Regions from separate parts of the Homo sapiens genome. Here region 2 is linked to region 1. Evidence: fine-mapped expression QTL. A gene starts in region 1. The other region holds a variant in brackets. All regions are shown on one strand. Distances are between the middles of the regions.

Region 1 (5,386 bases):
GCCTTAGTCTCTTTAGCTCATGAGAAATGGAGATTATAACACTATATGTGGCAGAGTTGAGGGAGATTGAATCAGATAATGTATTTATGGTGCCTAGCACGAGCAGCACTCCTGGGTGGTGGTGGCAGCGTTATCCACAGTCCCAGCTTGGCCACTGATAAGTTCTGTGAACCTAGGGAAGTCACTTAACCTCAGCCTCAGTTTCCTTATATGTACGGTTGGGGCTGCTGACAACTTAGCAAAATTATTGCTCATCTTTTGGCTTCTCAGCATCTTAACCCCTTTCCTAGAATTTGGGAATTCTCTGCCATAGAAGCCTGCCTCCTATTATGGAAGACAAAAACGCTGGATATGTTATCTCCCGGCTTCCTCGCAGCTAGCTAGGGTGTTGGTACTGTGTTTCCCTCCTTCCCGCTTCTGCGGAAATTACCATCATACATTTATTAATAGTGTCTTATCTATACAGACCAGTTTTTATGGCTTTACCCTAAACATTGTAAGGTATTTGCAAAACAGAAACAGACAGTATTACAAAGAGAAAATAACTAGTCCGCAATAGTGAAGAACATTTTAATATCCCAGAGAATATTGGAAACCAGGGGATCAAAGATGGGGGGAGGGACGAATGTAGATTGCAGTATAGTTGCAGCAGAGGAGGAAGGGACGAGGACAGGGGGAGAGACCGAGGACTGTGCCCGAGGCAGCCCCCACTCCCTGTTTCACTGAGCCTGGCTTCCACTTTCCCCCGTGCGTGGGGTGTTTGGTCCCTGCTACGCTGCACAGAGGGTGAACATCTGGCCCTTTGCTTGCTTCCAGGTTCCAGCCATGGCTCTAGCCCTGATCTCCAATATGGTTTCTGTTCTGTTCCTGGCCCATGGAGATGTTTATCTCATTTTCAAGCCGACTATGCCCTTTCCTCCTGTTGCCCCCCCATCGGATGAAAACAATTGTTATCTAAAACTCATCATTAAAAAGTGATACATTTTTGTTTTGAATAGCATATGGAGGTTATTATTTTTCCAGAAATTTTCTATATTTTTATCAGGGGGTGTGTGTGTGTATATGTAAATAAACTCTCTATACCTTTGTACATCTTTTTTTGTTCACTTAACAGTGTATCTTGACCATCCTTATACCTAAGTCAGCCTTCTTTGATAAATGTTGCTGGTCTCTTGGTATGATTTTTCTTTTTACTATGAAAACCTTTCAACATATACAAAAGTAGAAAGCATCATGTAATATTTCTGGATGCCCCAATATTATAATATCCATGCAGCCTCAATAACTATCAGCCCTTAGCCAATCTTTGTTTTATGTCTCCTCCCACCCACTTTTCCTCTTCCCCTGATTATTTTGAAACGAATCTCAGTCGTCACAGCATTTCGTCTGTAAATGTCATTTTCAGTCTATTAGTTTCTTAAAAACACATCTGCTGTGGCCGAGTTTAGAGCTGAGGAGAGTTATATGAGCTCATAGTGTCACTCTGTCTTCAAGTTCCTCAGTCTGAAATCAGTTGGTACAAGGGAAGAAAATAGAGAGAGGCAGCACTAACCTCTAGCCAAGCACACTTTCCATCTCTCTGCAGATTGCCTCATGTCAGGATGTTAGCGTGACCGTCACGTCTGGAAGGCTTTATGGCTGATATAAATTCAGGTCCGTTGTTCACTAGGCATGAAGCCCTCCGTTGTAAGGGAACCAGCCATCACCCTCATTACGAGATGCATAAATGTAGGACTTGAAGATAAAAGCTATTGGGTTCTTTTCGTCTCTCTGACACCTGAAGATGAATTTCTTGAACCTTGTTCTCGTGTTTAAAAAAAAAAAATTAACCAAGATTGAGCCTGTCAGTTTCTATCAGAGTTAAATCTGAGTAAAGGAGAAAAAAGCTTGCCACCTTTTAAAATAGTGATTCCTTCACTCCCTGGGAGTTAGAAAACTGGGCTAAGTGTTTTTGTGTAGCCCGTGTGACCTGGAGGCCGTGCTATAACCCCTGCAGGAATTACTCATAAAAAGGGAGGGATGTACCTGCCCTGTGGTAGAGATCAGAAGTCTACTCTGAGGTTGTTATTTTTAAATAACATCAGTGGAAAAGGTATTTTAAAAGGAAAACTCTGTACAGAGAACCCAAGCGGGATTGTGTTGCTGTCATTGTGACCGTCTCTTACCTGATGGCTCTGCCTCCCGGGCAGGCTAGGAGCTCCGGGATGACGTCCCAAGACTCGGGCGCATAGCGGGGGCTGCTGAAGATCGGAGTGTGAGGCTGAGAGATGAGGTCCAGGTGGAGCACGTGAAAAGCTTCCTGTGTCTGAAAACACGACTCCTTCCAGTTCTTTTGTCTGTCTGCACATTATGAGTATTTTGGTACTACTGAATCCGTTTTTAAAAGTTCACCACGTCGTGCCTGACACAGGTGTCTCCTGAAAGAATGAGTGAGGAAGTGAATGCGTGGAAGGGGTGGGACTGGGAGGCAGCCCTTCTGTTCTGTTTATGCCGTGCAGACCAATGCCAGGCACTTCGATGTTTGTTGAGTGAATGCAGGAACAGATGTGTAGTCAGAGGGCGTTTCCTCCGCGGTGCTGGCCAGCTGCTAAGTCAGGCTCTGTAGTCCCATTACTGGTCTTAGAGAAGTTACTTTCACATTCAGTTTTTGTTTGTAAAGACAGTCCATGGGAAAGTTTGTTATTCTCAGTTTGTTTGTTTGAGACATAGTTTCTTTCTTGTCGCCCAGGCTGGAGTGCAGTGGTGTGATCTTGGCTCACTGCAACCTCCGCCTCCCGGGTTCAAGCGATTCTCCTGCCTCAGCCTCCCAAGTAGCTGAGATTACAGGCGCTGACCACCATGCCTGGCTAATTTTTGTATTTTTAGTAGAGACAGGGTTTCATCATGTTGGCCAGGCTGGTCTCGAACTCCTGACCTCAGGTGATCCACCTGCCTGGGCTTCCCAAAGTGCTGGGATTACAGGTGTGAGTCACCATGCCCAGCCTATTCTCAGTTTTTTATTTGGCTCATTGTGTGTGTGAGCCATAGGATTGGTCCCATGAGGAATTACGAAGTAGAAGACATGCCTCTTGCTTTCAAGGAAGATATAACGTGAGGGAGATAGGGTAGATAAAACTTAATGAAAACGCAAATGCCTGCGGTGTCAACACTGAGTCAGTACTGCTGTTTAGAGATATCCCATGGACAAGATACATAGACTTTTTGCTGTAGGAACTGTAAATTTTACTGAGTGGCTCACCTCTCCCTCAGCTTAATATTCTGCCTTCAGCTGGGCATGGTAGCCTGCACCTGTAGTTCCAGCTACTTGGAAGGCTGAGGCAGGGGGGTCACTTAAGCCCAGGAATTCTGTGGGTGTCTGCACTAAGTTTGGCATCAACTTGGTGACCTCCTGGGAACGGGGGACCACCAAGTTGCCTAGGAAGGGATGAAGCAGCCCAGGCTGGAAATGAAGCAGGTTAAAACTCCTGTGCTGATTAGTAATGGGATTACGCCTGTGACTAGCCATGCACTCCAGCCTGGGCAACATAGCGAGACCCTGTCTCTAAAAAAAGAAACCAAACAAACAAAAATGGAGTTCTGCCTTCAAAATGCTAAGAAGTGGGTATCACATTCCCTTCTTTCCTCTGAAAAGTCTCTCGGAGTGGTGTTTGGCTTTGCAATGCAGGCGTAGCCTCTAAGAGTGCTCTTGGGATAGACCAAACTCTGTGCCCGAATAGAAAGCTCACTGGGCAGGCATTTGCCGAGGGTTTGGCTATGCAGTAGAGAGAAACCAGACCCTGTCCTCCAGGAGCTTGCAGTGGGACGTGGGTCTGGACAGGGCTACAGTGGAGGCACAGCGGCGGATGATGGGCCCGCAGGACTGTGTGCTTTGTTGCATTGCTGCAATCTGTTTCCTATGCCAAATAAACATCATCGCATTGAAAGAACCTTATTTGTAATCCAGGCAGCAGAAAGGCTTATCTGTAAGCATCTTCCTGGGGAAAAAAAGCAAAATAGCACAGTTGAATCCCAGTGGCATGTGTACAAGAGGGACCTTCTGTAACAAACCACGTGTGGAAAGGACTGAGCTGAGCGTGACCAGCCCCACATGAAGGGAATTTCTATATGGCTCCATGGCCATCTCAGGTGCAGACTTCAGCCACAGGACTGCATTTCTTCTGTGGGTTCCTAAGTGAAACGGATCTGAAGTTCCCATCCCTCTGCTTCCAGGGTAGCAGCAGAATTGGCTCTTATAGAAATATCAAACTTTTAATCTGAGCCTGGGGTTGAATTGAACATCTGTCTCCTCCTCCTGCCTTAGGTGACTTCTTTAAATGAGCTGCTTACTGTTGATCATAGAGAACCCCTGTGATCTTCTATTTCATGGTAGCAGAATTGACTCCAGCATCAAGGAGCTGCCCAAAGGAGTGTTTTGATCCAGGAACCCAGCCGTCTGCCTTTTGGGGACTGCTCTATCACTGTTTGTAAAAGAGGAAGCTGAGCCAGAATTGGCGTAGTATGTCGTGATTTGCCTGGATGTCTGCGGTGTCCTTGCGTCTGTAGACGAGCGCTCATTATGAGGCTGGTGGATTCTATGGACTTTCAGAAATGTGAAGTCACAGAGATGCTCGCAGGGCCCCATCAGTGCCGGTCACCGTGGAGTGAGGTGCCCGTTCATGTGACTTCACAGAGATGCTCGCAGGGCCCCATCAATGCCGGTCACCGTGGAGTGAGGTGCCCGTTCATGTGGCTTCACAGAGATGCTCGCAGGGCCCCATCAGTGCCGGTCACCGTGGAGTGAGGTGCCCATTCATGTGGCTTCACAGAGATGCTCGCAGGGCCCCATCAGTGCCAGTCACCGTGGAGTGAGGTGCCCGTTCATGTGACTTCACAGAGATGCTCGCAGGGCCCCATCAGTGCCAGTCACCGTGGAGTGATGTGCCCGTTCATGTGGCTTCACAGAGATGCTCGCAGGGCCCCATCAATGCTGGTAACCGTGGAGTGAGGTGCCCATTCACGTGGCTTCCACTTGATCTTCCTTGGCTCTGTTAAAAAAACAAACACAAACAAGCCCGCTGCTTCTCTCAATAAAATCAAGCCCAGTCTCTGCATGGAAATCCTTTCCTTTGCTGCTAGGACCATCCTATGTTGACCGGCCCAAGGATCACGAACTTGGAACTCTAAAGAAAGCAGGATAATTCTAGCTCTTCACTTGGGTAGCAGTGAACAGGACTTTCATGTTCCTGATGATGTATAATTGCAGCTCATTGGTATTCAGCTTTCAGAGAGCCTGGAAGATTGCGTCTAAGCAAGGTAGAGACATAAGGGTGAATCATATTATTTACAAAGAATAACCAGAGCAGAGAAAAGGCACCCCTATTTCTTCTGCCGGTACCTTCCTGCCAAG
Region 2 (5,386 bases), 48 kb before region 1:
AACGCTGATGGCAGGTCAGTAGGATGAGGACTAGATTTAGCAATGTGAAGGTCATTGGTGACTTGAACAAGCAGCTTCGCTGGAGCAGAGAATTGTGATCCTGAGCGGACGGGATATATAGTTGTCTTTTTTATAGGACTTTAATTTGTTTAGATAGTTTCAATTTTTTGCCATTTTATGATGCCATACTATGATGCTTGTGAACATCTTTAGGTACATAGTGTTTCTTAATATTATTTCCCAAGGATACTTATCAGAATAACATTTCACTATAATGCCACTAATATTTGGTTCTCAGTCTGTCCTTTGAAGACACTTTGAAATAACATAGCTTTTTTTTTTTTTTTTTTTAAATTGAGACTGAGTCTCACTCTGTTGCCCAGGCTGGAGTGCAGTGGCGCGATCTTGGCTCACTGCAGCCTCTGCCTCCCAGGTTCAAGTGACTCTTGTGCCTCAGCCTCCCGAGTAGCTGGGACTACAGGCGTGCACCACCACGCCCGGCTAATTTTTGTATTTTTAGTAGAGACGAGGTTTCGCCTTGTTGGCCAGGCTGGTCTCAAACTCCTGATCTCAGGTGATCCACTGGCCTTGGCCTCCCAAAGTGCTGGGATTACAGGCGTGAGCCACTGTGCCTGGCCACATTTTTGTTGTAAATAAATATCCCAGAGGAAAATGGAGACTAGCTGCTATTGTTTTAAGTTACAAGCTAATTGAGCCATGAAAACTCATTGCCAATTCAGTACCAAGAGGTGCAGAAGATAATTGCCTCGGTGCATATTGATTTTTTCCTATCCAGGGTGGTTATGCTGTGAGGTAATTGACAACACCGGGTTTTAAAAAGGATATACTAGTCCCAGTGTAAAATATTTTTCCTCCTGCTAACTGCTCTGCCTGTCCTCAAATGTGCTACTTTTTTTTTTTTAAAGGAAGTGACAATTAATGACTTGTCACTTGTTCAGCCAACATTGATAGCCAGTTTAGTCTTGTCTCATCCAATATTCCTTATTACTTTGGCATTTTAATTTGTACAAAGCCGTTTTCAGTTATCTTCTTTTCTTATCCTGTTACATTTGCTTTTACACGGTTGGGTCTCCTGAGTTTGCATCCCAAGCAAGTTAAAATTCCAGGCAGGTTATTTTTTCAGATTTAAACAGAGAAGGCAGAGGCCTCCTTTCTCCCTCCCTATGTTTTCATCGCCTGCCTGACTCATCTCTGGTCTCTTTCTCCGCCTATCTGCCTGTGTTATGTTTTCTTCCCCTGAGATCTGTTGCTGAAAGGCTGACTGCAGGAGCAGTGCTCAGCTCTGAGGGGGCATACCTATTGCCCCAGGGGTACTATTTGTACATGTCGGGGTTGTTGGCCCAGTAGTGATGCTGGCGGGGATGGGGAGGAGGCAGGACCCTGTAGGCTGTGGGGAATAGGGCAGGGTGAGTGCCACAGGGCTAGGGAGCATCTTGCCCTGCTTCCTGCCGCACCCTGCAGGATGGCAAGGCCACTTTCAGTTGGCAGAACTCTGTTGTCCTATAGGACAGATGCTAGCCACATGTGGCCATTTTTGTTTAATTAATTAAAAGTAAAGAAAATTAAAAATTCAGCTCCTCAGTCACACTAGCTGTATTCCAAGCGCTCAGTAGCCACATGTGACTAGCAGCTACTCTATTGGACAGTGCGGGTGCGGAGCGTTTCCATCAGGCACAGGGTTCTGCTGGACGGCGCTGTCCTCCAGGGCTTGGCTGCTTCCTGGGTGATTGAAGAAGCCAACATTGAGGGGCCTTGGAGACTGGCAGTGGCAGGTGACCTGGGCAAGCAGGCTGCAGCCTCGGGCTAGCCTGGAGGGAATGGCAGTGCCAGGCAGGGAGACTGAGGCAGTGAGGAGAAAGAGGGACTGTGACTTGGAGGTCCTGACCAGGCTCAGGCTCACTGGAGCTCATTGGATACTTCAATGCAACAGGACTGTGTCTAGACCATGGCAGGTGTGGCTGGCGGTGCTGAACTCCTGCAGGCCAGAGGGGTGAGCCTGCTGGAAGGGGCTCCAGCTGGGGTGCAGGAAGAGCATTCCCAGCACGGCACTGCCCGGGCCCTCCGAGCTGTTCCTGAGAGCTGTATGAATGGAGTTCCCGGGCTGGGCAGTAGGGGAACTGCCAGAGTGAAGGGACCAGGGCACAAAAGCTTTTCA[T/G]TCATGAATCTCTTTCATTTACAACAAACCACGGGTAGCCTCTCCCCAGGGATCTAGATGGTTCCAGGAACAAAGGAACACACAGAAAAGAGAGTCCTTTTATTTTTTTAAAGCTGAAAGAGGCTCTGTCCAGTGGAAGAACTGCGGCCACTTCTCAGTGGGACTTCTGACTGGAACAGTCTTAGGCGCCTGAGCGACTCTGAGGAAGGAATCCGTGGTGGTCACCCCTGGGGAAGCCAGGCCACCTTCTCAGAGCACTTCAAGCCAGGCATGTCTTGCTGGTAATAGCAATGACATTGAGTATGACTGTAATAATAATAACTGCTAATACAGAAGGCTTACTGAGACCCAGGCATTGTTCTAAGTGCTTTATATGAATTCACTTAAGAGAACATTTATGAGAACGGTAGCCAGCTTTATCACTGGAGGGTTCTCAGTGGCCCTCCATAGCATTTAACGTCAACAACCATTGTAGTAACAGCTGCTGTTTTATGGTTTAAAGAGAATTTTTATGTACATTGTCCTTTTAAAAAAAAAACCCAGCTTTGTTGAGGTACAGTTTATACCATCACATTCATCCATTGCAAATGCACAATTCTGTGGTTTTAGTAAATTTATAGGTTTATGTAACCACGACCACAATTCGGTGTTAGAACCTTTCCATTCCTCCAAATGTTTCCTCTGCTTGTTTGAAGTTAATCTCTGCTCCTACCCTAGCCATGGGCAATCACTGATCTGCTTTTTGGTTCTCTAAATTTGCCCTTTCTGGTAATTTCATGTAAATTGAATCATATAATATGTAATCTTTTCCACCTGGGTTCTTTACTTAGCATAATGTTGTTCTTGAGGTTCATCCATGTTGTAGCATGTATCAGTCATTTATTCCTTTCAATTTGTTACACAGTGTTCCATTGTGTGGCTGTCCCACGTTTTGTTCGTGTGTTTGTTAGTTGATGGACGTTTGGACCGGTTTCACTTTGGAGCTATTATGAATAATGCTGTCGTGAGCATTATCTTTGTGTGAACATATATTTTCATTCTTATTGGGTAAATTCCTAGGAGTAGAATTGCTGGGTCATATGGGAAATTTATGTTTAACTTTGTAGGAAACTGCCTGTTTTCTCAAGTGCTTGTACTCATTTATATTCCCTTCTGGGAGGCATGAGGGCTCCAGTTTTTCCACAACTTCTCTAACATTTGCTATTGTCAGTCTTCTTACTACAGCCATTCTGGGAGTGTATAAAGGTATCTCATTTAATTTGCATTTTCTTAAAGACTAGTCAGGTGAAGCATCTTTTCATGTTCTTGTTAGCCCTTTGCATATCTTTGGTGAAATATCTGAATAGATATATAATTGAGTTGTTTATATATATATAATATATATATTAATTGGGGTGTTCGTCTTCTTATTACTGAGTTGCAAGCATTCCTTATATAACCTGGATGCAAGTTCTTTATAAGATATACGATTTACAAATATTTTTCTCCCAGTCTGTGGCTTATTTTCATTTTAATATTGATTTATTTTTTATGCACAAAATTTTTAATGTTGAAGTTCAGTTTATCAATTTTTTTATTGTATGGATAGGGCTTTTTGTGTCATTATCTAAGAATTCTTTGCCTAACCCAAGGTCAGGAATATTTTCTCCTGCAACATTTGTTTTCTAGAAGTTTTATAGTTTTAGCTATTACATTTAGATCTATGATCCATTTTGAGTTAATTTTTATGTATGATGTGAGATAAAGGTCCAAATTCTTTTCTTTTATTAATTTTTTTGCATTTGTATATCTAATTGACTGTCCTTTACCCGTTGAATTACAATAGTGATAAGTAATAATAATTACCTTCACATTTTTGTTGAAAATATATTGACTATAAATGTGAGGATTTATTTCTGAATTCCCAATTTTATTGCATTGATCTATAAGCCTTTCCTGTGCCAGTATCACACCGTCTGGATTTCTGTGGCTTTGTAGTTATTTTTAAGATCAAGTAGTGTGAATTTTCCAACTTTGTTATTATACAAAATTGTTTTGGCTTTTTTAAGTTTTTGCATTTCCATATACATTTTAGGATCAATTCATCAATTTCTACCAAAAAGTCTGCTGGGATTTTGATAGTAATTTACATATCAGTCTGGGAGGAATTCCCATCTTGACGGTGTTGAGGCTTCCAATGCATGAACATGAAATGTCTCTCCACCTATTTAGATCTTCTTTAGTTTTCTCAGCAGTGTTTTGCAGTTTTTAGTATGCGAGTCTTGTACTCCTTTTATTAAGTTTATTCCTAAGTATTTTATTATTTTAGGAATGGCTTTTTTTTTTTTTTTAGACGGAGTCTCGCTCTGTGGCACAGGCTGGAGTGCAGTGGTGTGACCTCCGCCCACTGCATCCTCCACCTCCCGGGTTCAAGCGATTCTCTTGCCTCAGCCTCCCAAGTAGCTGGGATTACAGGCGCACACCACCACTCCTGGCTAACTTTTTTGTATTTTTAGTAGAGACAGGGTTTCACCACGTTGGCCAGGCTGATCTTGAACTTCTGACTTTAGGTGATCTGCCCACCTTGGCCTCCTAAAGTGCTAGGATTACAGGTGTGAGCCATCGTGCCTGGCCAGGAATGGATTTTTTTGAATTTCTTTTTTTGATTGTTTTGTTGCTAGTATATAGAAGTGTGATTGATTTTATATCCTGAAACCTTGTTAAACTCCTTTTTCTGTGTGGATTCCTTGAGATTTTTAACATACAGGATTATGTCATCTGTAAATAAAGACAGTTTCCTTCTTCCTTTCCAATCTGATGCTTTTAATTAATCAATTGCTTAGTTAATTCATTTTATTTTTTGCCTTATTCCACTAGCTAGAACTTCTAGGACAGTGTAGAATAGAAATGGCAATAGCAGACGTCCTTGCCTTGTTCCCAACCTTAGGAGGAAAGGATTCAGTCTCTCACAATTTACATATGACAATTGTCTGTGGGTATTACATTAATTTCAGATGTTATACCAGCCATGCATTCCTGGGATAAATCTTCACTTAGCTATTCTATGTAATTCTTTTTGTATTGATAGATAGAGTTTAGGAATTACAGTTTTCTTGTGCTCTCTTTTGTCTCATAGAATGAGTTGGGAAGTGTTCCTTTTCTGAAAGATTTTTTTGAAGAATTGATAAATTGTTTAATTTTTTTTTTTTTCTTGAGACAGAGTCTCACTTG

The links. PIP is the estimated chance that this variant, and not a neighbour inherited with it, causes the effect. A credible set is the group of variants that fine-mapping cannot tell apart.
Region 2: its variant is the best candidate, but not a certain one, in a credible set for the expression of XXYLT1-AS2 in prefrontal cortex (BrainSeq, PIP 0.64).

Annotation. Positions count from the first base shown.
Region 1 is chr3:195,144,885-195,150,270 of GRCh38, reverse strand. XXYLT1-AS2 (XXYLT1 antisense RNA 2) reads right to left here and starts at 2,400. Exons shown (of 2, transcript NR_102711.1): 1 at 2,166-2,400. The region is part of intron 3 of XXYLT1 (xyloside xylosyltransferase 1); the gene reads left to right. LOC105374296 (a long non-coding RNA gene) reads left to right here. Exons shown (of 2, transcript XR_001741088.2): 2 at 1-1,000. It also overlaps the pseudogene RN7SL36P. RefSeq lists enhancers at 1-54, 2,283-2,332, 2,573-2,682.
Region 2 is chr3:195,192,407-195,197,792 of GRCh38, reverse strand. The region is part of intron 2 of XXYLT1 (xyloside xylosyltransferase 1); the gene reads left to right. Among named protein-coding and RNA genes, the nearest start is that of XXYLT1-AS2, 47 kb to the right of the region's middle. The variant T/G (reference allele first, on the strand shown) is at 2,177.